7 linked regions of the Homo sapiens genome follow. The protein of the gene in region 6 interacts with the protein of the main gene of each other region in a pairwise test. Each region holds a gene or a part of one and is shown on either strand. Other genes may lie near its edges.

The links.
Region 1: the proteins of PRPF40A (region 6) and SH3BP5L interact in binary tests that used the Homo sapiens proteins (3 or more experiments, as listed by UniProt).
Region 2: the proteins of PRPF40A (region 6) and FGD5 interact in binary tests that used the Homo sapiens proteins (3 or more experiments, as listed by UniProt).
Region 3: the proteins of PRPF40A (region 6) and SREK1IP1 interact in binary tests that used the Homo sapiens proteins (3 or more experiments, as listed by UniProt).
Region 4: the proteins of PRPF40A (region 6) and PTPN4 interact in binary tests that used the Homo sapiens proteins (3 or more experiments, as listed by UniProt).
Region 5: the proteins of PRPF40A (region 6) and DPF1 interact in binary tests that used the Homo sapiens proteins (3 or more experiments, as listed by UniProt).
Region 7: the proteins of PRPF40A (region 6) and CCNC interact in binary tests that used the Homo sapiens proteins (3 or more experiments, as listed by UniProt).

The regions. Positions count from the first base shown.
Region 1 is NC_000001.11:248,815,916-248,819,415, reverse strand, and holds part of SH3BP5L (SH3 domain-binding protein 5-like), read left to right. Parts: intron 1-2,531; coding exon 2,532-2,594; intron 2,595-2,753; coding exon 2,754-2,882; intron 2,883-3,500. UniProt on the Homo sapiens protein: Functions as a guanine nucleotide exchange factor (GEF) for RAB11A.
Region 2 is NC_000003.12:14,817,882-14,821,871, forward strand, and holds the start of FGD5 (FYVE, RhoGEF and PH domain-containing protein 5), read left to right. Parts: upstream 1-1,190; coding exon 1,191-3,715; intron 3,716-3,990. UniProt on the Homo sapiens protein: Activates CDC42, a member of the Ras-like family of Rho- and Rac proteins, by exchanging bound GDP for free GTP. Mediates VEGF-induced CDC42 activation.
Region 3 is NC_000005.10:64,758,692-64,762,191, forward strand, and holds part of SREK1IP1 (protein SREK1IP1), read right to left. Parts: intron 790-3,500; exon of another isoform or gene 1-789. UniProt on the Homo sapiens protein: Possible splicing regulator involved in the control of cellular survival.
Region 4 is NC_000002.12:119,762,922-119,766,421, forward strand, and holds part of PTPN4 (tyrosine-protein phosphatase non-receptor type 4), read left to right. Parts: intron 1-3,500. UniProt on the Homo sapiens protein: Phosphatase that plays a role in immunity, learning, synaptic plasticity or cell homeostasis. Regulates neuronal cell homeostasis by protecting neurons against apoptosis.
Region 5 is NC_000019.10:38,214,223-38,217,722, reverse strand, and holds part of DPF1 (zinc finger protein neuro-d4), read left to right. Parts: intron 1-131; coding exon 132-263; intron 264-1,319; coding exon 1,320-1,370; intron 1,371-1,463; coding exon 1,464-1,583; intron 1,584-3,500. UniProt on the Homo sapiens protein: May have an important role in developing neurons by participating in regulation of cell survival, possibly as a neurospecific transcription factor. Belongs to the neuron-specific chromatin remodeling complex (nBAF complex).
Region 6 is NC_000002.12:152,710,962-152,714,461, reverse strand, and holds part of PRPF40A (pre-mRNA-processing factor 40 homolog A), read left to right. Parts: intron 1-2,094; exon of another isoform or gene 2,095-2,158; intron 2,159-3,500.
Region 7 is NC_000006.12:99,562,161-99,565,660, reverse strand, and holds part of CCNC (cyclin-C), read left to right. Parts: intron 1-2,712; coding exon 2,713-2,819; intron 2,820-3,500. UniProt on the Homo sapiens protein: Component of the Mediator complex, a coactivator involved in regulated gene transcription of nearly all RNA polymerase II-dependent genes.

The sequences.
Region 1 (3,500 bases), on a different chromosome or scaffold from region 6:
TTTTTTTTTTTTTTTTTAAGCTCATCAGCTGTAGTTAGTGTTAGTGTATTTTATGTGTGGCCCAGGACAGTTCTTCTTCCAGTGTGTCCCAGGGAAGCAAAAAGATTGGACATCCCTAGTTTAGAGCCAGATTTGTGGCCCTCCTTAGGCAGGGTCTACACTGTTGTAGGTAGGTGTGTGCATTTTCATATCCTCATTCCTCGTTCCATTACAGGTTTCTACCTTTGTGTTCTTCCTGTTACTGTAATTAACATGTCAAACCATTTCCTGTATTCTTACCTGCTGACCCAGATCTTTTCAGGATCAAGGCAGGGGATGGGGGGAGGATAGAAGAGGTAGAAGGGACTAAAAGGAAGATTGTGCATGTCAGCCTGACTCCCTCACTGGGTTGCTGAAAGGCCCGAATGAGGTGAGTGGGGGCCAACATCACGGCCATATGAGTGGGAAGTGATTGTGGTGTCACTGCCAAGTGCAAGTCATGGGTCTGGGCAGCAGGCACATGCTGGGCTGGGTCTCTCTGGCCTGTCCAGCCTCCTGTCCAGAGACAGCAGGGGCTGGTGAAGGCAAATCCTATAGCTAGGCACCAGGTATTTCCTGGCACAAGGCCCTTGGCACAGACCAGCACTGCTCCTCAGTAGTGTCCTTAGCTCACCAGGGGCTCTGGGAACTTTTGTGTTTTCTCGGGCAAGGGAGGATGACTTGAGGCCAGTACCCCTCTCAGCTCTCTTCCATTTCATGGAAAGCCCTGGATGGTTCTATTGCTTCTCTCTCCAGTCCTTCCAGGGGCCAGGAAGGCACTCAAACCAGCTTGTCCAGCAACTTTTCCCCAGGACTCTCCCTCCCTCCCACAGGATCTGCTCTATAGGGACCTGCGGTCATGGTCACCCATTGCCCAAGCAGGCCAAAAGGCTTCTTGGACTCTATACACTTTCCTGATCTTGACCTTAGTCATCCACCAAGCCCCTGTGATTCTGTGTCCTGCGTTGCCTTGGGATCTGCCCTCTCCTCTGCCACCTGGAATACTATAGACAGCCTCCACCTTTTTTTTTTTGTTTGTTTTTTGTTTTTGTGATGGAGTCTCACTGTGTCGCCTAGGCTGGAGTGCAGTGGCACGATCTGGGCTTACTGCAATCCCTGCCCCCCGGGTTCAAGCCATTTTCGTGCCTCGGCCTCCCAAGTAGCTGGGATTATAGATGTGTGCCACCACGCCCAGCTAATTTTTGTGTTTTTGCTAGAGACAGGGCTTCACCATGTTGGCCAGGCCGGTCTTGAACTCCTGGCCTCAAGTGATCTGCCCACCTCTGCCTCCCAAAGTGCTGGGATTACAGGTGTGAGCCACCATGCCTGTCCCAGCCTCCACTTTTGTCTCCCTGGCTCCCCCAGGCTTTCGTTACATTGGCACCAGGCTCTGAGAGACCCTTTTGCCATTGCAGAAAGTCCTGGTACTACCTCCCATAGTGCTGTAGCCTTACTGACCTTCTCACCTGCCAACTTGTCTGCCCAGGGTACCTGCTCCCCTTTGGTTCCTTGGCCCTTTGTTCTTCACTGGCACTTTATTTTTTTGAGACAGAGTCTCGCTATGTTGCCCAGGCTGGAGTGCAGTAGTGTGATCTTGGCTCACTGCAGCCTCTGCCTCCCAGGTTCAAGTGATTCTCCTGCCTCAGCCTCCCAAGTAGCTGGGACTATAGGTGCACGCTGCCACACCCGGCTAATTTTTGTATTTCTAGTAGAGACAGGGTTTCACCATGTTGCCCAGGCTGGTCTCAAACTCCTGACCTCAGGTGATCTGCCTGCCTCGGCCTCCCAAAGTGCTGGGATTACAGGCGTGAGCCACCTTGCCTAGTCATTCACTGGCACTTTTGTGTCTATGAAGTCCTTCCAGCTGCTGAGCAAGTGTTCCAGGCATCCTACCCTGACCTTCTGCTGCCCAATTAGGTGACCTTGCTACCCAGAGAGCACCCACACCCACCCCTCACAAGGCTGCACATACTGCCCAGGACCTGCTGCTGACTTGCTGGGTTTCCTTACAGGCTGCCACCTCTATGTCCTGAATTCTCAGGTCTCACGGTCCTGAGAGGTGATAAGTGTGCAGTAAACATGTGCTGACTGAGTGGCCCTGCCCTGGCCCAGGTGGCCATCCTCTCGCAGAGAGCGAGCCTTCAGGTCCAAGGAGACTCCCTCAGTTTGAGGAAGTGTTGCAATCTCACGGAGAGAGTGAGGGCTCACCACAACTTCACGTTGTGCATATTAGTGTTGCATTCTCCAAACCTCAATTTCTTCATCCTTGAAACTGGGGTTTTACTACCCAATACAAGGTAGAGTTGTGAGGATTACGTGAGATTGTATGTATCAGGTCCCTGATAGACAAGAAAGCTTTTGGCAATCTCCGTATCTTCTTTCCTTTCCTGAGTGTCTCACCTCATTTCCCTGGGCAAGTGGGGCTCTCTCTCTCTGTGTTGCTCCTGCCTTGCATGGTTCATTCAAGGCTACTTCCTTCCACTGCACTAATTTGCCACCCCTCTCTGTGGCAGGAGGAGTTGGAGCACCTGAACCAGGCCAGCGAGGAGATCAACCAGGTGGAACTACAGCTGGATGTGAGTGTCCTTTTCCTTATGTGCTTGGGCTGGTCCTTGGAAGTATCTCCATCTGTCTCTTTCCCAGATTGAGGCAGTGGCGGTGGGAGGGGTGTGTCTGAGAAACAAGAGGGGCTGGGACCCAAACATGTGCCTTTCCTCTGCCTTGTTCCTTTCCAGGAGGCCAGGACCACCTATCGGAGGATCCTACAGGAGTCGGCGAGGAAACTGAATACACAGGGTTCCCACTTGGGGAGCTGCATCGAGAAAGCCCGGCCCTACTATGAGGCTCGGCGGCTGGCTAAGGAGGTATGGCTGGCTGACCACGTTTGAGGAAGGCTACGTGCTGAGCCTGGCCCTGGATTCTTCTGTCTCTATATGGAGTGAGAGACAAAACACCAGACCCTGAGGGCAGAGCCCTGGGCTAGACCTGGCTGGTCGGAACCAGCTCTGTGGGCTCAGGAGGTTCCTTTACCACGTGGGCTCTGGGCTTATGGTCTATAAAATGGTGAGGGTGGCTGTGGGAGAATATTTAGTTCAGCCCTGCTAATGTTTAAGTGCCTTCTGTGTATCAGGAATCAGGCTTTAGGGTATATCAGATATGTCAGTTCTAACATCCTGTTGTTTTCATCTGCGCCCATTTCCTCTTCCCTTTGGTTCATGTCTCTCTTCTGAATCTTTTCTTTGCTTACTCCTCACTCTTTTCCCCATCCCACACCCCTTTTTTCTGTAACAAATTACTTTTAACAAATAATATGTGTTCACCATTGGAAAAACATAATAAAACAAGAAGGAAACAAAAATCACCCAAAATCCTACCATGCACGTTTCATGCATTTTGTTTCCTGGGATTTGTTGTCATCCTGTATGGTGAGGTGACAGATACAGACAACTGCCTTGGAAGAAGAGTTTGTTCCCGAGAGGAGG
Region 2 (3,990 bases), on a different chromosome or scaffold from region 6:
ATGCAAGGGAGCTTAGGGGGCCAGGCAGGTGACAAGGAAGCCAGGGAGGAGGCATGGGCAGTCTTGTAGCAGAGAGATGCTGAGCTCAAAAGTTGGCAACCACTCATTTGACCGTTCCCCTTCTCTAGATCCTTCTTATCCTGCAAATCTTAGCTAAAATATCACCTTCTTTAAGAGGTCTTCCCTGGCCACAGCAGCCCATGCTTCTCTAATTCCAGTTGCATTGTAGTCTGCACCACATCTTTTATTCTGCCATGGTCAGAAGGTCCTCAGCATCCACAGATATCCATGTGGCAAGTACATCCTTTTCCAGAGATCCATGTTGGCACGTACTATATAATTTCTCCCATGAAATTTGCATGCCCATGAAATTTGGGTGTAGGCCTGGCTGGACACAGTCCTGAAGCATGCAGATTCCAGACGTGACCCCCAGCAGAAGCACACATCACTCTTTCAAACCTTTGGCGTGTCATTCATGAAGGGATGAAATGGCAGCTATTCAGTCATAATATTCCAAGGGTCCCCGGCTCTACCCTCCAGTTGTTGTAACTCAACTGTGAGTTCTCAGCAGAGTCTGTTTTCTCTTCTTGACCCTAGGAGACCCTGCCATCTGCAGTGCTGTGCGTGTAGCTAGTGGGTACCCAATGGAGTAGCTGTAGAAGGGGGGATGTAAGCTCCATGAGGGCAGCAGGGAGGGTGACAGCAAGTTCAGCCTTTTCCCATGGTTGCTGGGTCATAGAAAGTGTTTATCAGTAGCTGCTGGATGAATGAATGCACTGACCTGGACACTTCATTTGAGGAGCACAGGATTTCATTTGGTTGATTTTCGTTAGTTGGGCTGCGTGTAGAAGAAAGGTCTGTTCACTTTGTTTACAGAATGAATCTTTAGTGGAAAATCAAGGGGTTTTAAAGATTCTGGTGGAGGGCATAAGCCTAAGACAAAGCACGGGAGGTGGGCTTCACATGGATGGACGGAACCATCTGTGGCGTCCCCTGCAACTGGTGTGTAGGAGACTCTGAATGGCAATAAAGTTAATTGTACTTTTTCTCCTTTTCTCTATTTTTGTCATCTAGATTCACCAAAACCACCTGTCGCTCCCAAGCCAAAGACTACCAGTCCACTGACGCCAGTGACCGCGCCCAAATTCCCTTCCTCAGCCAGGCCCGAGAGTCTTCACAGTCCAAACTCCATGTTCAGGGGTCCGAAGCCCCCCATTGCCCCCAAGCCCAGGCTGACTGCCCCAAACGAGTGGAGAGCCAGTGTGTACCTGAATGACAGCTTGAACAAATGCAGCAACGGGCGGCTGCCCTGTGTAGACAGGGGGCTTGATGAGGGGCCCCGGTCCATCCCAAAGTGCTCTGAGTCGGAGACCGACGAGGATTACATCGTGGTCCCCAGGGTTCCGCTGAGGGAGGATGAACCCAAGGACGAGGGCAGTGTGGGGAACAAAGCCCTGGTGTCTCCCGAGTCCTCTGCGGAAGAGGAAGAGGAGCGTGAAGAGGGAGGCGAGGCATGTGGCCTGGAGGGTACAGGAGCTGGTGAGGATTCAGTGGCCCCTGCTGCTCCGGGTGCAGGAGCGCTGAGCAGGGAGGGTGAGGAAGGCACAGACCTTGCTCTTGAGGATGAAGGGGAGGGCTGCGCTGATGAGCCAGGGACACTGGAGCAGGTGTCCAGAAGTGAGGAGGAAGAGAAGCTAGTGCAGCCACACAGGGAGTGCAGCCTGGAGGACAGTGGGCCTTGGGCTGGAGAGGGGGTCTTCCAGAGCGACCTCCTCCTGCCTCACATCCATGGAGAGGACCAGGAGCCCCCCGACACCCCCGGGGAGGCAGAGGAGGATGATGAGGAAGGCTGTGCCAGCACAGACCCAGCAGGGGCAGATGAGGGTTCGGGTCCTGACAGGCCCACGGAGGACATGGGACAGGATGCTGAGGACACCAGTGAGGAGCCCCCTGAGAAGGAGGAGCTGGCCGGGGTCCAGGAGGCAGAGACAGCCACAGACTGCCCTGAAGTTCTTGAGGAGGGATGTGAAGAGGCCACGGGTGTCACAGGTGGGGAACAGGTTGACCTCAGTGAACCACCTGACCACGAGAAGAAAACCAACCAAGAAGTGGCAGCCGCCACCCTGGAGGACCATGCACAGGATGAGTCCGCCGAGGAGAGCTGCCAGATTGTCCCTTTTGAGAATGACTGCATGGAGGACTTCGTGACTTCCCTCACAGGAAGCCCCTATGAGTTCTTCCCAACTGAGAGCACCTCTTTTTGCAGCGAGAGCTGTTCTCCTCTTTCTGAATCAGCGAAAGGTTTAGAATCAGAGCAGGCACCAAAGCTGGGGCTGCGTGCGGAGGAGAACCCCATGGTGGGGGCTTTGTGTGGCCAGTGTGGCTCCCTACAGGGTGGAGCGGCCGAGGGTCCCGCAGCCCCTGATGTGGTGGTCGTGCTGGAGGAGGAGGCCTTGGATGATGCACTGGCCAACCCCTATGTGATGGGAGTGGGCCTGCCCGGTCAGGCGGCCCCTGGAGAAGGAGGGCAGGCTGCATCGGACGCCCTGGGTGGTTATGGCTCGAAAGAAGAATTGAACTGTGAGGCAGAGGGTGGCCTGGTTCCCGCGGACAGGAAGAACACCAGCACGAGGGTCCGGCCCCACTCTGGGAAGGTGGCCGGCTATGTCCCAGAAACCGTCCCTGAAGAAACCGGACCTGAGGCGGGCTCGTCAGCCCCTGGCATTGGAGGTGCCGCAGAGGAGGTGGGAAAGACGCTTTTGTCATTGGAGGGGAAGCCCTTGGAAGCCAGCAGGGCCTTGCCAGCAAAGCCCAGGGCCTTTACTTTATACCCTCGGTCGTTCTCCGTGGAAGGCCGAGAGATTCCAGTGTCCGTGTACCAGGAGCCTGAGGGGTCAGGGTTGGATGACCACAGGATAAAGAGGAAAGAGGACAATCTCTCTCTGTCGTGTGTAATTGGCTCCTCTGGGAGTTTCTCCCAGAGAAACCACCTTCCGTCCAGCGGCACCTCCACGCCTTCTTCCATGGTCGACATCCCACCTCCTTTCGACCTGGCCTGCATCACCAAGAAGCCCATCACAAAGAGCTCTCCCTCACTCCTGATCGAGAGCGACTCCCCGGACAAGTACAAGAAGAAGAAGTCATCCTTTAAGCGCTTCCTGGCACTGACGTTTAAGAAGAAGACGGAGAACAAATTGCATGTGGATGTGAACGTGTCTTCCTCTAGGTCCTCTTCAGAGTCCAGCTACCACGGGCCTTCCAGGATTCTGGAAGTTGACCGGAGAAGCCTCAGCAACTCCCCTCAGCTTAAGTCTCGGACTGGGAAGCTCCGGGCTTCTGAATCCCCCTCCTCCCTCATCTTTTATAGAGATGGCAAGAGGAAAGGTGTCCCCTTCAGCAGGACGGTGTCCAGAGTGGAGTCCTTTGAAGACCGCTCCCGGCCGCCCTTCCTGCCCTTGCCACTGACCAAGCCACGGTCCATCTCCTTCCCCAGCGCTGACACTTCAGACTATGAGAACATTCCAGCCATGAACTCGGACTATGAGAATATCCAGATTCCACCCCGGAGACCTGCCAGGGCTGGCGCGTTCACGAAGCTGTTTGAAGATCAGAGCAGAGCCCTGTCCACAGCAAACGAAAATGATGGCTACGTGGACATGAGCAGCTTCAACGCCTTTGAGAGCAAACAGCAGAGTGCAGACCAGGACGCAGAAAGGTACCTGACATTCTATTTCCTTTCTTGTTCGGCAGCTGTAACTGTCCAGGAGGCAGCGTGGGTGTGGGGGACAGATGGACTTGCTTTCCAGCCTCAGGCTCTGTTTCTTACTAGCTGTGTTGACTTGGGGTGAGTGGCTTTATATCTCTGAGCCTCGGTTACTTCATCCGTGAAATGGGACTCATGCTACCTCATGGTAGAGAGTTTAAGAAAATCAGAGTAAGGCCGGGCGCAGTGGCTCATGCCTGTAATCCCAGCACTTTGGGAGGCCGAGG
Region 3 (3,500 bases), on a different chromosome or scaffold from region 6:
AAATAATCTTATCTCTGCATGTATTAGAATTGAACTCATGACAAAAGGCACTGATAAATTCATCACTCAAGTATCCCACAGTTTTAGAGTAAACAAACTATGAAACTTTTTCTTGGCAGATCATCATCTTTACTAAAGTTGAAACTTTTACATGACAGGGAAATATAACCAGAACTCTAAATAAAGTACTTTACATCAGCTAGTTCCTCACCAGTCTTTGGTTAAATTATTATTTCAGCTTCATTAGTCTTTAATTTTCGTGATTGTCTGGGCAACTGAATGCTTCTACCCAAGAGTTTGAATCTGAGGCAACTGACTTAATAGATCTGAGGCAAGTGACACAATAAAGTGGGGAAAGTTAATTCATTCTGCTGTCAGGATCCAGTTTCCAGGGGCACTGATGTCACTGGCAGTAGCAGCCCTAACCAGGTTTGGGCTTGTGCAGGATCTTGGATATGGGTTCCCTGGGTCATTTCTATTTTCTGACCCTTATTATGCAGGCTTTGCTTAGATTCACTGAGCTAGCTGATATCTTTCCTTTTCTGCTTAAGTTAACTAGTCAGTTTCTATCGTTTGGAATAAGAACCCTGGCTGATATAACGGTACTCAAAATCCATGTCAAAGTGACTATAGTAGAGCTATATTGTGAGGTCCTTACTCAGCTAAGTTACCTACTTCCCTGCCTTGGGCTCCCGTGCAGTTCTTGGCTCCATTCCTTTTTGAAGTTTGCTAAGGCTGTTCAGAGTAATACAGTGTGCCCACCTCAAAATTTTCCTTTCTAATCATGACCTGCAATCCAAAAGGCATTATATAAAAACTTATAAATTTGACATTGGAAAAAAACTGAATGGCAAAAACCACCAAAAGCAAACTCAAAAGACACGTGGAAACTTGAGGAAAAAATATTTGCGCCTCATAGGACCAAAAAAGAGCAATTATCCCTATGTATATATCTCAGCAAATCATTAAGAAAAAGATCAGTAACCAACAGGAAAAAAATGGGCAAAGGATGTTCACAGAAACGGAAATAGAAATGACTCTCAAACATGTGGAGATATGCTCAGTCTTACTTAAAACAGGTAAAATGTACACTAAAAACTATACTGGGATTCCATTTTCACTTATCAGAATCGCAAAGATTGAAAGGTTGAAGGAAGTGTAGGGGGGCATACTCTCATACATTGCTGGCAGGAGCATAAATTAGTACTATCTCTTATGGAAAGCAGGCTGACAAAACCTGTCAGAATTACAAGTGTACATACCTCTCTGACACAACAATCTCACATTTGGGAATTAGTTCTCCCAATTTATGTGCACAAATGCATACTGACTTATGTACAATGTTATTCACTATAGCATTGTTTTTAATAGGGACAGAGTAGAAATAATTTAAATATCAATACGGAACTGGCTAAATCAATTACGGTATGAAATAATGGGGATGGTTTTTATTTAATGATGTCATGATCGCTAAGATATACTGTAAAAAGAAAAAAAGCAAGGTGCAGAACAGTGTTTATGGCATGCTGCCATTCGTATAAAAAAAAGAAGATGATAGAGCAGGAGCACTGTCATCTGGGACAAACACCACCACTTTAAATTCCAGCTCCCTTTCTAGCCTCATGCATTTCAAGGAAATTACTTCTCTTCTAATTGTAAGCAGCCAGAAAGAACAGACAATAACATACAGATAAGACAGCTGGGCACAAAGGGAGGTGGGGGGAAAGTCTCTTGAGCAACTGCCAAACTTCACCCTCATACAATGGGCCCCAGTAAAATAGTGGGCCTTAATAAGCACATTCCTTTCCCTTCAGGTGCACTAGGATAGAAAAGCTACATGCAGACTGATAGGCCTGCAGCTGCAGAAAGATGTATGGGAACAGACACACAACTCTCCCTCCCAGATAAGCACAACAAAGAGTCAGAGAAGCAGTCCAAGCCTCTGATAAACTCTCCCACCCTGAATCTTTAAAAACTCTTAGTTTGTAAGTGAGTGTGCCTCTGACCTAACTTGGCCAGAAGGCACCTCTCACGTTTGTTTTCTCTAAATAAATCTGTCCTGACTGGCGAGCCATCTTTTCATGTTTCTTACCTCTTTCTTTAATTCTTACAGAAGATATTAGACATACCTCTGTAAGGATATAGATTGGTTACTTGAAGAAAGAAAACTAAGTCCAGACAGAGAAGGACTTGAGTAAGAGACATGTCACTATATACCTTTTGGCAGTTTTAAAATGTGAAAGGTGATTAAATTACCCTTTCAAAAACCAATCTGGAAAATCTCCCTCAAACAAACAAAACTGTAACACTAAGAAAAGTAACTGTCAAGTAAACATTATCTGACAAAAGGCAATTATTGCATTTGTAAATTCTTCAGAGAGGTTACATTGCAGACTTTCAATAAAATTTTATTAATTCATGATGTCAGAGTCTTCATTCTTATACTTGCTAAATATTAAGGGCTTACTCTGAATCTAGTATTCTGTTAAACAACTTGGGTGATAGTGGGAGGAATCAGGTAATTGGGCTGGTCCTTTTTCTTCCAGTAACTTAAAGTAGCCATATAATTTTGAATCCAACTCAGTGCTTACCATGATGGAGAGTTGCTAAGAGGTGCTCAACAAATACTTATTGATTTGAGGTTATAAGCTTAAGAAAATACAGTCATGTTTCATTTAATGACAGGGATACATTCTGAGAAATGTGTTGTTAGGCACAACACAGAAATTTTGTCCTTGTGGCAACATCATGGTGTACATAAATCTGGGTGATATAGCCTGCTATACACCTAGGCTATATGGTATAGCCTACTGCTCCTAAGCTACAAACTTGTACCGTATGTCACTGTATTGATACTACAAGCAGTTGTAACACAATGGTGAGTACTTGTGTATCTAAACATACCTAAACATTGAAAAGGTACAGTAAAAATAAGAGTATTATAATCTTATGGGACCACCATTGTATATGCAGTCAGTTATTGACCAAAACATCATTTTGTGGTGCATGACTATACTTCAGAAGTTGGAAACTGGCAACTTCTCTAGACCCCAGTTGCCAGCTAAGAAATACGCGTGTGCGTATACACACACACTCAATTTATTTGTCAAAATTCTTCAAGCCAAACATTTGTGATCTGTGCTGTTTTTAAAACATGTAAATTATGTCTTAGCAGTTAGCACAAAAGAAAAAAAATTTTAAAGTTAACAGTAGACAACGAAGAAACAGAAAATATTGAGAAAACCAAAAAGAAGGGACAAAAATAAAAGGACTGAGAAAAATTGAGAGAAAGATGGCGAGTCCTCAACACTTGCTTCAGGTTGGTCAGTGGTCCGCAAAGGAATGTCATATTCGATTTAAATTTATTTCCTTGAAATTTTACATCACCTATCTTTCCAAAGGCAACAACTTAGTCACTGGGAATTTTAACAGTGATGCTTAGAACTTAATATATTTTTCCTATTGTCTATTTTGGAATTTAGGGAAGCCTGACATTTTCA
Region 4 (3,500 bases), about 33 Mb from region 6:
CCTTGAAGTTTGGCTTAGCATTCTGAAAATCCTTTTTATTGTTTGCCAGGAAAGCACTGTAGGAAGGAGGTGTTATCTCTTCATTTAATATTTAATGAGTAGTATAGATGATGAGATAGGATATAATGTAGAAATACCGTAGAATCTTCTTTATTGATATGAAAGTACCATTGTCTAGGAACAGCATAATTTCTTATCTTTTGCATGAATGGGGAAAAAGAGGAGGGGAAATTTATTAGACTCTTTCATTTCATTAGAGATATCTTCCCTCACATTCATTCTTCATTTCATTATTCTTAAGTAGAAACTTTGGAAGAGAGATGCAAGTATTTGAATTAATTAGTAAGAACAAAATGAAAATTACATCGTATAGACTATCATGAGGAAAATATCAATTTGGGTTGGTTATTGTGTTTGTATTTTTTAACAAGGAGGTTATATAGAGTAGTAGAAAGAAAAAAGGACCCAGAGGGGAAGAGTGTTAATATTTATTGTCTGTTAAGTGTCAGATCCTGTATAAGGGGCTTTTCATGTTGTCCCACTCACCAAGTATGCTTTATGAGGTAGGTATTATTAATCCCCTGTCCTCTCCCTGCCAAATAGAAGCTAAGGGAAATGAAATAACTTGTCTAGGCTCATACTTCTAGTAAGTGGAATTCTCTAAAACTTATTCTTTAGATCGGTTCTGTCCAATTAAACTTTCTGCAATGATGGAAATATTCTTTTTTCCTTCAACTTTATTGAAGTATAATTGACAAATATCATAGAAATATTTTTTGCACTGTTAGTTATGGTAGCCATTAATCATGTGTGGCTATGGAGCACTTAAAATGTGACGAGTGTGTCTGAGAAACTCAATTTAAAATTGTATTTAATTTAAATCAATTTAAATTTATAGCCAGATGTGGCTAGTAGCTATAGTATTGGAGAGCATAGCTTTAGGTCTGACTGCTTAGAAAATCTGAGTTGTAGTATTTAATCTTCCACTGGTTTATGCATGGCATTGGGCAAGTTGTTTAGTTCTGGGCTTCAGTCTAATCTGGTGTGAAAATGAAGGGGTCGCCACTAAGAGATTATCTCCAAGGTTCCTTCTTGCCTGAAGTTCTGTGACTGTTATTAAAACATACAGTAGCATTCAATATTCACAAGCATTATGTCTGAAAGGATCCCCTCCCCAATATGCTCACCCATTACCTAAAGATTTCTGTTTAGTCAGTTTCTCTTTTTGAGAAGCGTATGTATAAAGCACACATAAAGGATAGTGGATTATTCCCCACCTCCCCAACTGTTCGGCAAAAACATTGTGTAACTCAAGGCAGTACTTTATGATGGAACAAAGTTTGAATCTTTAAAGGCCATATTTTAACATGCCACCTTCCCGTTTAAAAATATATAGGAGTTCCCCGGTGCTTATCAAATTAATCCCAAATTTACCTGCTTGACCTTGAAGACTTTCTACCAACTTCATCTCATTAACCTTGTTTCTCATTCGTGCTTAAAAAGAAAATAGTCTTGTTTTTTCCTTTGTCCTCGTTTCCATAATTTAAACATCTCTGTCTCCAATTCATGTGCCTCCTCTTTAAACCTTTTTCAAAATTCACCTGTTTCTGGAAGAATGCTGCTTAATCCACTCACAAGGATCAGTTAATGAATCCTGGTAATAAGTACCCTAAGGTTAATATATGCTTGTTTAGATATAGTTTAATATCTTCTTAAGCTTTTTTTTTTTCTTAAGTTTTTATGTTACCTACTCTGTTTCCTTAATTTTCTTAGGTTAAAAAAATTAAAATAGGAATAGCGTCTTTTGTATTGTCTTATGAATTTAGTTCATTTTTCAACAATGCTACTTTTAAAAGTTGCTAATTTTTAAAAAGGATAAATACTGTAACAACGTTTACCCTTGATCACCACCATAATAGCTATTTTTTGTTTCTTTCCAGGTAATTGTTCATATTTAAAAAATAAAGTTGTGTGGTAGAGAGAATTTTGAGAGGAATATAATGGGAACATTGTATGGTGGAGGCTGTGCAATGTAGGGGAAAGATCACAGACTTTGGAGTCAAATCTGGTGTGGAATCTAGCGTCAAAAACCTCGGGCAAACTGTCTGATTTCTGAGTCAGGAGTCAAATCTGGTGTGGAATCTAGCGTCAAAAGCCTTGGGCAAAGTGTCTCATTTCTGAGTCAGGTGGTCTTGAATTGTGGGGATTAAGATACTATATGTAAGGCATCTAGCGCTGTGCTTTAAATACAAGAGATGATCAGTCAGTGATAGTTGGTATTATTTTTTCATTTTTCTATTCCCATCTTCATGAATATTATTTATTTATTTTAGCTACCCAAAGCCACCAAGGTCAATGAATATAATTTAAGTGATTAGTTAAACATTCAGGTGATATACCATAACTGATTTAGACATTTACATTTTGTTAAGCGGTTTTTTGTTTATTTCCTCAGTTTAAAACCCTAGGACTGGGATAATGGTCAAGTGTCATGAATATTTCTGTGCCAGATCTCTCTCTTACAGAAGTACCTACAGTGGTTGTTCTTGTTTTGGGAAGAAAAAAATGCTAATTTTATAATTGTATTTCATTGTTTTAATTAATGTAATTTGAAAATTTATTTGGTGATGATGTAATGAACATTCCTTTATATGTTAAGCAAACATTTGAAATGCCCATTGTAGTGGGAGCAGTGGTATAAAGGTAAATAAGACATGATTCTTGTCCTTGAGCTCAAATTCTAGGGTGGTAACACATGTCAACAAACAATTAACAATTCATAGTGACAGTGTAATAAGATCTGGGGAAAAGAAGTGGCATTTGAATATGGTCTTGGAGGATCATTTGGAATTGATCTGGGTAGAGAGAACAGCATATAGAAAAAGTCAAAGTATGAAAGAATGTGTGGTGTGTTTGGAGAAATGTAAGTTGTCTTGTTGGATATGTCTGTCTCTGTCTGGGTGGGTGTGGTTGTCTGTTCCTGTGTGTGAATCTGTGTGTGTGTGTGTGTGTGCGCGCGCGCATGTGCGTTGATTGCAGTGGGAAATGAAGTCTTGTGAGGGTCCTTGTGTTTGGGCAATGAGTGGGATCATTTTAAGACCTTTAAAATAGAGCTTCCCAACTGGTGTGCCATGAATGGTTTACCAGTGTTTCGGAGAGCAAGATACCCTTGTTTAATGGGACCTGGGCATATCAGATCCCCCTCCCCACCCTGCCCCAGGATGGTTTCTTTTGGCTTTGAATAGCATTTGTGGCTTATCCCAACGTGCTAAGAAATTATTATTTTCTTTGTTGCCAAGTTGGGAAAAGGATTGGGAAAACCACTGTTTTAGAGACTGTAAGTATTAGAAAGTTTATGGTTCCTACTCACCCTTGGCATCCACTATGGAATCAGAAATAAATATCAAATCCTAAAGTAAGCTTAAGGTAAACTTAAGAATTCTTAAGTCACCTTCCTCTTTCTCTCTCTTTTTCCCTCCCTTTACCCGCTGCCTCCCCCA
Region 5 (3,500 bases), on a different chromosome or scaffold from region 6:
CCGTTCCAGACCCGGGTTGGGAGGCTGCTCAGGTCTCTGGCTGAGGGGGGAGGTGTGATCCTGGAGGCCAGGGTGGAGGCGGCAGGGGCCCGGAGGGGCTGACAGGCCCTCCTGGCTCGCTCGCTCCCCAGTCTGTGGGAAACGGTATAAGAACCGGCCGGGGCTCAGCTACCACTACACCCACACCCACCTGGCCGAGGAGGAGGGGGAGGAGAACGCCGAACGCCACGCCCTGCCCTTCCACCGGAAAAACAACCATAAACGTGAGCTGGCAGGCCAGGTGGGGGTGGCCAGGGGCCCTGGGAGTGGGGAAGAGGAGCCCAGCTGGGGGTGGGGGTGGGGGGGCATTAGACATTTCTGGAAAATCTCCAGCTCAGCCGTTCCCTCCCCCCACCGACCATGGGGATGCTGGCTCCGGGGTTGCCATGGCAACCAACCATCGCTCCTTCGCTCCTGGCCGGGCGTAATATTTCTGGGTCTGATTTATTGTTTCAATTAGAGCTTGGGGAGGGGGGGTGATAGATGGCTCCCCTCCCGCCCTGCCTTCCCTTTCTCCTTTCTCTGCTAAGCTTTGGTCAAGGGGCAGGGTCTGTGGCCTGGGAGCCCTTGGCTTCCGCCCTTGCCAATCCCATGCCAGTTCTGACAGCTGAAGGATGGGGGAGGGGAGGAGGGTTTGGGAGAGGCAGTAGGGAGACACTGTCTTCCCACCTATCTCTCAGAGGCAGAGGCTGAGTGTCTTCACCCCTGGCCACTACACACCCACGCACCTCAGTGTTCGGAGTTTTTCTTCCGAGTGTCTGTTTCCATACCAGATCTTGGCTGGGGTACTCGCTGAATTTGTTAGATACAAATTACTGAGGGTGCAGTTGGGAGTGGCTGGCTGGGAGACATGTATGTGAGAAGGGAGGCAGGGAGCCCTTCCTCAAGCTGTCTACCAAGTTTTGACCCAATAAAGAGGACATGTCAGTTGTCTCAAGGAGTTGGGAATCCTGGCTGGGTGCAGTGGCTCACGCTTATAATCCCGCCACTTTGTGGCAGTGGCCGAGGTGGGAGGATCACTGGAGGCCAGGAGTTGGAGACCAGCCTGGGCAACATACCAAGACCCTGCCTTTATTTTTAATTGAAAAAAAAATTTAAAAAGGCAGAGTTGGGAGTCCCGATGAGAACTGTTTTCACCTCTCCCCACAGCTTGGGGTAGCTACTCACTCTTCCCAGCTCCCCACGCCTGGACTAAGAGGTCCATCCTTGGGGCTGAGGCTGGGGGCAGGGTGGAGCCTTGCCTGTGGTGAGAGTCCCTCTCTCTGTCCCCCCTACCCCAGAGTTTTACAAAGAATTGGCCTGGGTCCCTGAGGCACAAAGGAAACACACAGGTACGGATGCCTCCTTCTGCTCCTAAAGTCTGCAGCCACCTTTGCGGGGTGCCCTTGCCTGCCCCGTGCCAATGCCTGTCTGCTGTCTTGCAGCCAAGAAGGCGCCCGACGGCACTGTCATCCCCAACGGCTACTGTGACTTCTGCCTGGGGGGCTCCAAGAAGACGGGGTGTCCCGAGGACCTCATCTCCTGTGCGGACTGTGGGCGATCAGGTGATGCTCCCCACCTGAGGTTTCTGGGGGCCGGGTGCAGAGGACATTCAGGAGTGCAGACCTGGAGGGAGGGAGGCAAGGCGGTGAGGACCGAGGGGACCCGGAGCATGTAGGGGATACTGTGGATAACCAGAGCTAGCGAGGCTGATGCAACTGCTGAGGATTGTGGGAATTGGGTCGGATCAGTGAGGCTTTAGGGATAATGGGATGTGGCTCTCATGGCACTGTGGGTAGCTGCCTGTGCTTAGCATGGCATCAAGAGTAGTGAGAGGCCAGGTGTGGTGGCTCACGCCTGTAATCCCAGCACTTTGGGAGGCAGAGGTGGGAGGATCACTTGAGGCCAGGAATTTGAGACCAGCCTGAGCAACATAGCAAGACCCCCATCTCTACAAAAAATTTAAAAATTATCCAGGTGTGTTGTTGTGCACCTGTAATCCCAGCAACTCAGGAGGCTGAGGCCGGAGGCTCCCTTGAGCCCAGGAGTTTGAGACCAGCCTGGGCAACATAGTGAGATCCCATCTATATATAAAAAAAGTTAGCTGGGCATGGTGTTGCACCCCATTAGCCCCAGCTACTCGGGAGGCTGAAGTGGGAGGCTCGCTTGAGCCCAGAAGGTTTTTGTTTTGTTTTGTTTTGTTTTGTTTTTTGAGACAGAGTCTCCCTCTGTCACCCAGGCTGGAGTGCATTGGCATGATCTTGGCTCACTGCAACCTCCGCCTCCTGGGTTCAAGTGATTCTTGTGCTTCAGCCTCCCGAGTAGCTAGGATTACAGGCACCCGCCACCATGCCTGGCTAATTTTTAATATTTTTAGTAGAGACGGGGGTTTCACCATGTTGGCCAGGCTGGTCTCAAACTCCTGACCTCAGGTGATCTGCCTGCCTTGACCTCCCAAAGTGCTGGGATTACAGGCGTGAGCCACCGCAGCACCCAGCCCCTTGAATCTGGGAGTTTTTGACTAGCCAGGGCAACATAATGAGAGCCCATCTATTAAAAAAAAAATAGGCCAGGCTGGGTGATGTGGCTCACATCTGTAATCCCAGCACTTTGGGAGGCTGGGGCGAGCAGATCATGAGGTCAAGAGATCAAGACCATCCTGGCCAACATGGTGAAACCCCATCTCTATAAAAATACAAAATTTAGCTGGGTGTGGTGGTGCGTGCCTGTAGTTCCAGCTACTCCGGAGGCTGAGGCAGGAGAATCGCTTGAACCCGGGGCTCAGAGGTTGCCATGAGCCAAGATTGCACCACTGCACTCCACCCTGGGTATCAGAGCAAGACTCCGTCTCAAAAAAAAAAAAAAAAAAAAAAGGCTGGGCATAGTTTCGCACCCCATTAGTCCCAGCTACTCGGGAGGCTGAGGTGGGAGGATCGCTGGAGCCTGGGAGGTCAAGGCTGCAGAGTGCACTGTGATGGTGCCACTATGCTGCAGCCTGGGCAACAGAGTGAGACCTTGTTTCAAAAACCAAAACAAGACAAAAGGAGTAGCAAGAGACAGGGGCCAAGGCATGGCAGGTAGTGGGCTGTGTGGTGTGAGTGACGGACACCACCACCTGGGCACCGGTAGCAGGATGAGCTCGCCATAGAGTTGTGGTTAACAGAATGTGGTTTCCCATGGTGGGCTTGTGGGCAATATAGACTCTGGTTGCCTCAGCACAGTAGGTCATGAATTGTGGTTGTCGTGGCATCATGGGTAGTGAAATATGGTTGTCATGGCAACTCAGTATAATGGAATGTAGTTGTGATGGCACCGGGGCCGTGGTTGCAGGGGGCGGGCGCCATGGGTCGTGGCTGCAGGTAGCGGCTGCGGGTGTCTCTGCAGCGGGGCTGTGGAATGACTAAGCCTGGCGCTGCACAGTGCTGTGATGTGAGTAACAGTTTTGTTGCTGGGGCACCAAGTGGAATGGACTTCAGTTGCAT
Region 6 (3,500 bases):
TAGTTAAAAAAAAAAATGCAGATTTTATTTTTTAAAAGTACTTTCATGTATCTCATTGACATAAGCTGGTCACAGTTTGCTTTATGGCCCTTTCTCTTTAGCTGTATCAGTGACCATCTTTCTAGTAAGTTTACTTGCTACTCGGTACACATCCATTCAAATAACTGATTTTTTTGGTGTGGTTTTCTTCTACTTTTTCCTAGGCTAATATATGCCACGTGCCTTTAAGTAGACCTAATTATTTAGATGTTTAGAATTCTTCTCCCTCTGAAGGCTCCTGTTAGTATAATAAATAAATGTTTTAGTAGGAGTTATGCCCTGAAAGTCCCAAAAGAATCTCCGCTGTTTTTGTCAGAATTATATAATTCCCTTTTATCCCCTTAATATTTCACTAACAAATATGGGTCCCAAATCTTGGTAAAACAAATTCTTGTTTTAGCTTTATAACAGACTGGGAGAGCATGGATAATTTGAATTCTCAAATCAGAAATCATATTTGAAACTCTGTAAACATTGCTTTAAAAATTAAAGGTGATAATAAATAGGACAATTGATCCTTTTTCCTGCATTATTTCTTCTGCCACTCTTGGAAGTACTCAGGAGGAATAAGTGGTCAGAAGATAATTGAGAAGAAGCAGGATGTCTGTCTGTATCATTCACAGTAGTGACAGTTGGGAGGGTTCTGCCATGCAATTTAAAAAAGTCAGTTCACAAATTCTTTAGACTTTGGGACTGAAGGTTATAAAAACCTTCATGTGTTGACTGGTTTGCATGAACATCTCATGCTGGGACTAGCTAAAGACTAAAATTGGTGGCAGTCTTACTTGCCAAATAATTGTGGTCTTTGGAATGTTACCAATATGACATGAAACTGTAAAACTTGTTTGTAAAATAATATGCAGACTGGGTAGCATAATGATGTACGGAAGCCAGGGTTCATAATTTCTCAAATGCATCAAGCTATTTAGCTTAAAGAAGTGGTGTGTTCAAATTTTTTTTTTCTTAATTCATGAGATGACCTAGAGTGCCATCTCATGCATTTAGGCTGACTCTTAGTAGTAATAAATATTTGATGATTATCAAATTGAGCTTAATATTCTTTCAGGTTTATTTCAGTTTTCTATCTTGTAGATTAAATTTGCCTCTTATTCTATATAACTTTATAGGAAAGTCATACTTTTAGAGTTATAGGATCTTATAGCTGAAAGGGACCTTACAGGTTGTTTAAGCTTTAAATAATATGTGATTTAAGATGCTTTGAGGATCACTGGTTAAATGTTAGTAAAGAAAGATAAAGAATTTTCCCTGCTGGATGGCAGTACTCAAAAATTTCCCATTGGGAGGCTGAGGCGGGTGCATCGCTTGAGCTCAGGAGTTGGAGACCAGCCTGGGCAACATGGTGAAACCCCATCTCTACAAAAACTATTTAAAAATAAGCTGGGTGTGGTGGTGTGCGTCTGTCGTCCCAGCTACTTAGGGGGCTGAGGCAGAAGGATTGCTTGAACCTGGGAGGTCGAGGCTGCAGTGAGTCAAGATCACGCCTTGCACTCCATCCTGGGTGACAAAGTGAGACCCTATCTCAAAAAAATAAAGATTTTCTGTAGAGATTTCTATCAATAAAATTATGTGTGAGGCTGTCTTCTTCCTCAGTGTCCATAGTAAATACTGTTTTCATGTCTTTTGTGTTTTCTACACAAAGGACATGCAGGTCCTGCCATCTTTATCACAGATGATTATGCCTTTGCCCCAGAGTCATGCTAGCTGGCTCTTTTTTTTTCCTCCCTATTTGAGTCTTTATTTTCCTCTATCAGTGAGAAGAGTAGAGTAATTGAGTTAAGGTCCCTTTCAGCTCTAACATCCTATGATTCAGTTCAGATCATTTGATAAGAGTAGATATCAGATTTTATGGGATGATATGGAAAGAACAGAAAATTCCTTTAGTAATGCCTCCCTAATTCTATTTATTCAGTGCTTTTTTTTTTTGGTCTTTGGTCAGTAAACTGATAAATGAATAATTGCTTTTTACAAATGAGTTTGATTTTCTTGCTCCTATATTGAGTAAGGCTGGCTCTAATAGATCTTATTTTATTTCAGTTCCTGCTACCACATGAGCCCAAGTCGTCACTCTCCCATGCCTAGGTTATTCAACAGTTTTTGAGTTGAGTTGGTTTTCTTGCTTCAAGGATGCCCCCCTGCCCCCACAAATTTTAGATTTCAATGTGTTATCTCCTTGCCCAAGAATCTCCAGTACTTTCAGTGCCTATAACATAGTATCTAAATTCCACAGCTTAACTTTAAAGAACCTCCCCATAGTACATGTCAAAGCAGGATTCAAGGCTGCATGTCTTTACACTCCCTAATTTGAACTTAGGCTGGTCTTTTCACGGTGTCTTGAGTGATTATATTAGTTCACAACTTCAAACTTAGGCTGTTCTTCTTACCCTCCTGCCCCCAGCTCAGTATCACCATGAAGTTTGCTTTGCTTACCTATGTTGTACTATTTCAAGTCCTGCCTTCTCCAAAAGTTTCTCAAAAATGACTTTTGCCAACATATACCTCCCCTTCAGATTATTAAAGAAAATATTTGTAATCTACCCATAACTCTTACCGTTTCACTTATTTTGGCACCTAGTTATTGACTTGTTTTATGGTTTCTTAATTTGCTTTAATTTTCCAACAAGTAATAGATTGTAAGCTCTTAGAGGGCAGGGGCTATGTTCTGTACTTTTTAAGAAGCCTATAGGTGCTGAGCACAGTTCTTGGCACATCATGGGTGCTCAGTAAAATACTTGTTGAATGAATGAAACAAATACACAGGTATTCTTTCCTGCAGTATAAGCCCATAAGTCAGTCAGTGTTAAATGTGACTGTTTCCAGTGGTTACTTGTGACTTTACGTTGTTACTACTTATTCTTGTTTTTAGTGTCTGCCTCTTTACTCTTACTTTTTCATTTGACAAAAATGGAAGATAAATAAGATGAAATAAATAATTTTTGTTTGGAGAATAAAACTAAAATATTTCCATTTGCAGTCGACCCTCTGTATCCAGAGATTCAAGCAACTGCGATGGAAAATAGTCTTTAAAAAAGCAACAACAAAAAAATACAAATTTTTAAAAATAAAGTATAATAACTTTTATAGCATTTACATTGTGTAAGGTATTATAAGTAATGTAGAGGTAATGTAGAGGAAAAAATAACAAAGTAGGATATAGGCCTTGCAGAGAAATTTAGTGTATTGGTACCTTAGACTTACCTGACTGATTTGACAAATTTATTTGTTGCTGTTCCTTCTGAATTACCCTTCCTTTTGAGTAGCTACAGGATCCATGCCATTGAATTGGGCATTAGCCAGTGACAAAAAAGAGATAGAATTTTTGTTTTTTAGGTCATCTGCTCATAATTCTTGAATCTGGGTAACTTCTGGGTACATGTGGATGACTCAAGCAAGTACTTTTAAAAAATATCTTAACTCAGACCTAATGTCTGTAAATTCTTGAC
Region 7 (3,500 bases), on a different chromosome or scaffold from region 6:
AACATAAAGCATCAGCAGTGGTGAAACATTGAGATAATTAGGGTGCCTATTTAAGATTTTACCAATATGCTAGTCAATACAGTTGATACAAAGGAGATATAGAAAGAATGACAAAACAGGGACAAAATTATCAATACGTGGAAATAAAATTAATGAGAAAACTCAGTTAATTGAGAAGTTATTAGAAATAATAAAGGTTTAGGAAGGTGACCAGTTATAAAATGCAAAAATAAAAGCTTTTTAAAAATGGATAGAGAAGTATAATTTACATTAGCAACAGAAAATATACAGAGGGAAAAATATAAAGAAATATACAGAACCTGTAGGAAGAAAACTTTAAAAGTCCATAGTGGCACATACAGATTTTAATAGAGTTTGAATTCTTGGTAAGATGTCATTTCTCCCCATATTGATCTTTAAATGTAATGTAATCACAAAATTTGAATGGATATTCTTTTTTAGGACTCGACATAATGCTTCTAAAGTTTAGGTCTTAGAATAATTGTGATAGAATAGTCAGAAATTTTCAGAAGAATAGAAGGGAGTATTTTTCATATCACCTATTAATTACTTAATTTTCTATGTTTTAAAGTAGCACAGCATATGAAGAAGAAAAAAATAGGAAATTATAAAGAAGATCCAAGTATAATGATAGAATTATAAATCAGGAAATACCTTAGCACATTTGGATAAGCATTTGACAACATATTTAGCTGGATCCCTGCTTTATACTCTGTACCAAAATAAATTCCAGATGGATCATAAATTGAAGGAAAAAAGCTCTTAAGGGTATTAGAAAATATGGGTGAATTGTTTTTTATCGTTTTGAATCAGGAAAGGCCTTGCTATGCCTGACAAACATGAAAGTAAAAGGTAGATTTAAGTAAGTGATTCAGATTTCTGTATTACAAATAAATACTGAGAGATATTTAAACTTGGGAGAAATTTTGCACTTATTTGACAAACAAATGATTTATTATTTATACTATACAAATTTTAGATCAGAAGAATCTCTTAATCATTAAAAAAATCGGTAATCCCATTAGAAAAATGGTCATATTAGAATTAACATTGTACAAAAGAAGAACTGTATTTGACCAATAAAGACATGGAAAGATGTTTAACCTCAAAAGTAAACTACAGGGAAAAGAAACAGTGACATACTACTTTGCCTTTAAGTTACAAAGTATTTAAAAGTGGCAGTAACCCATAGGAATTTTTTTTTTTTTTTTTTTTTTGACAGAGTCTCACTCTGTACCCCAGGCTGGAGTGCAGTGGTATGATCTCAACTCAGTGCAACTTCCACCTCCCGGGTTCAAGCAGTTCTCCTGTCTCCGCCTCCCAGGTAGCTGGGACTACAGGCGCACGCCACCACGTCCAGCTAATTTTTGTAATTTTAGTAGAGATGGAGTTTCACCATATTGGTCAGGCTGGTCTCAAACTCCTGACCTCAGGTGATCCACCCACCTCGGCCTCCCAGAGTGCTAAAATTACAGGCATGAGCCACCGCGCCCGGCCAGGATTAAATATTATAAGATTCACTCATGAACTGTTAATACAAATGGAAATTGGTATAATGTTTTTGGAGGGTAAACTGACAATGTGTATCAATAAGTTACCAGCAACACTAACCCATTAATCCTACTTCTGGGAAGTTATTTCAAATATATTATTAATCAAATATGCAAGGAGAATTACAAAGATATTCATTAAGAAGAATATCATTCAGGAAAATAGTAGGAAGAGAGTTTTTTTTTATACCAGCTATTAATTACTTAATTTTCTGTGTCTAAAATAGCACAGCATGTGAACAAGAAAAAAATAGGAAATTATAAAGAAGATCCAAGTATAATGATAGAATTATAAATTAGGAAATACCTCCATGCATTTGGATAAGCATTTGACAAAATTTTAGCTGGATCCCTACTTTGTACCAAAATAAATTCCAGATGGATCATAAATTGAAGGAAAAAAGCCCTTAAGGGTATCAGAAAATATGGGTGAAAAATGACGACCTGTATTTCCATCAGTAGAGATTGGCTAAATAATGATCCATCCATAAAGCTGTATAAAAGAATGCTGAATAACAAGTTCATTGACATAAGACTTCAAATACATATTGAATGACAAACACAGGTTCAAGATAGTTTTTTCTTTGAGTCATGTCAATTTCATATCTGGTTAAAAATAGCACACTTGACTAGGCAAGAGGAGGAGGCTATCAGTGTAACACATTCTGAGGCAGTTTTTAATATAATTAGATTTGTGAAGTAAGGAAATTAAATGCCATAGTTACCCATGAACAGCTGGAAAACTATATACTTCCTCAAATCTAAGCCACCATCAATTGGTGCCAAATAATTCCACCATTATCTTATATCACTAAGAAAGAATAAACATGCTGCCAATTAAAACACGAAGGCATCACAGATTGTAAGACATATCTTGATATCAGAGCCAGAATCAATGAAATACAAGCTAGTAACAGACTAAGGAGGAAGAAGGAAAAGATTAGAGCAGAATTTTTTCAGGACGTATTTACATTTATTAGTGAGATAATTCTTATTAGTCACGTTTCAAGAAATGTGAGAAATAATTGTCTTTAAGGTTACTTTTTGCACTTTGTACTTCTCAGAATATGAACAATGTGTTCAATCTTAGAGTGTTTCCTCTGACCTTGCTTGTTGATTTTCTGTAACATGTCTTTTCTAGTTTGCAATGGATTTTGGATAAACAAGATCTGTTGAAGGAGCGCCAAAAGGATTTAAAGTTTCTCTCAGAGGAAGAATATTGGAAGTTACAAATATTTTTTACAAATGGTAAACTTTTTTAAAAATTGGTTCAAATTGTATAGTTGGTTACCTCTGAATAAAAATGTTTTTGTGTGGTAATTTGTGAACTGTTTTAGTGCATACCTAACATTTTTGCTTATACAGGTATTCTTTTTACAACATATTCATTTATCTTTCTTTTTAGTGATCCAAATAAAGTTTTTTTGTGTGAATTTTACATATCACAGGCACTCAAGACAATTTGAAAGTGTTACCTAATCTCCCTAAGACTTTATAATAATTATTAGACCCAGTTCAAGGTTGGCTAAAGCAAAGTACTTTGAGGATAAATGATTCTTTGGATTGACATCCTATAGTGGTCGTTTCTCTTAGAACTTTGCTTTGAAGGGAAGAAGATGTAGGGATAGATCTTTACTCTGACATGTAGTAGGTTTGTCACATAATTTTTTTAACTTTCGGTTCACTATTTTGTAAACTTATCTTTTTTTTGAGGATTCGTTATGGATTTTTATGTATTATTTATTTATTTTGGTGAGCTGTATAAAGCTAAGTGTGGTGGCTCACACCTGTAATCTTAGCACTTTGGGAGGCAGAGGTGGGCAGATCACTTGAGGCCAGGAATTTGAGATGAGCCTGGCCAACATGGTGAAATTCCCTCTCTACTAAAAATACAAAAATTAGCTGGGCGTGGTGAGGCACAAGAATCAC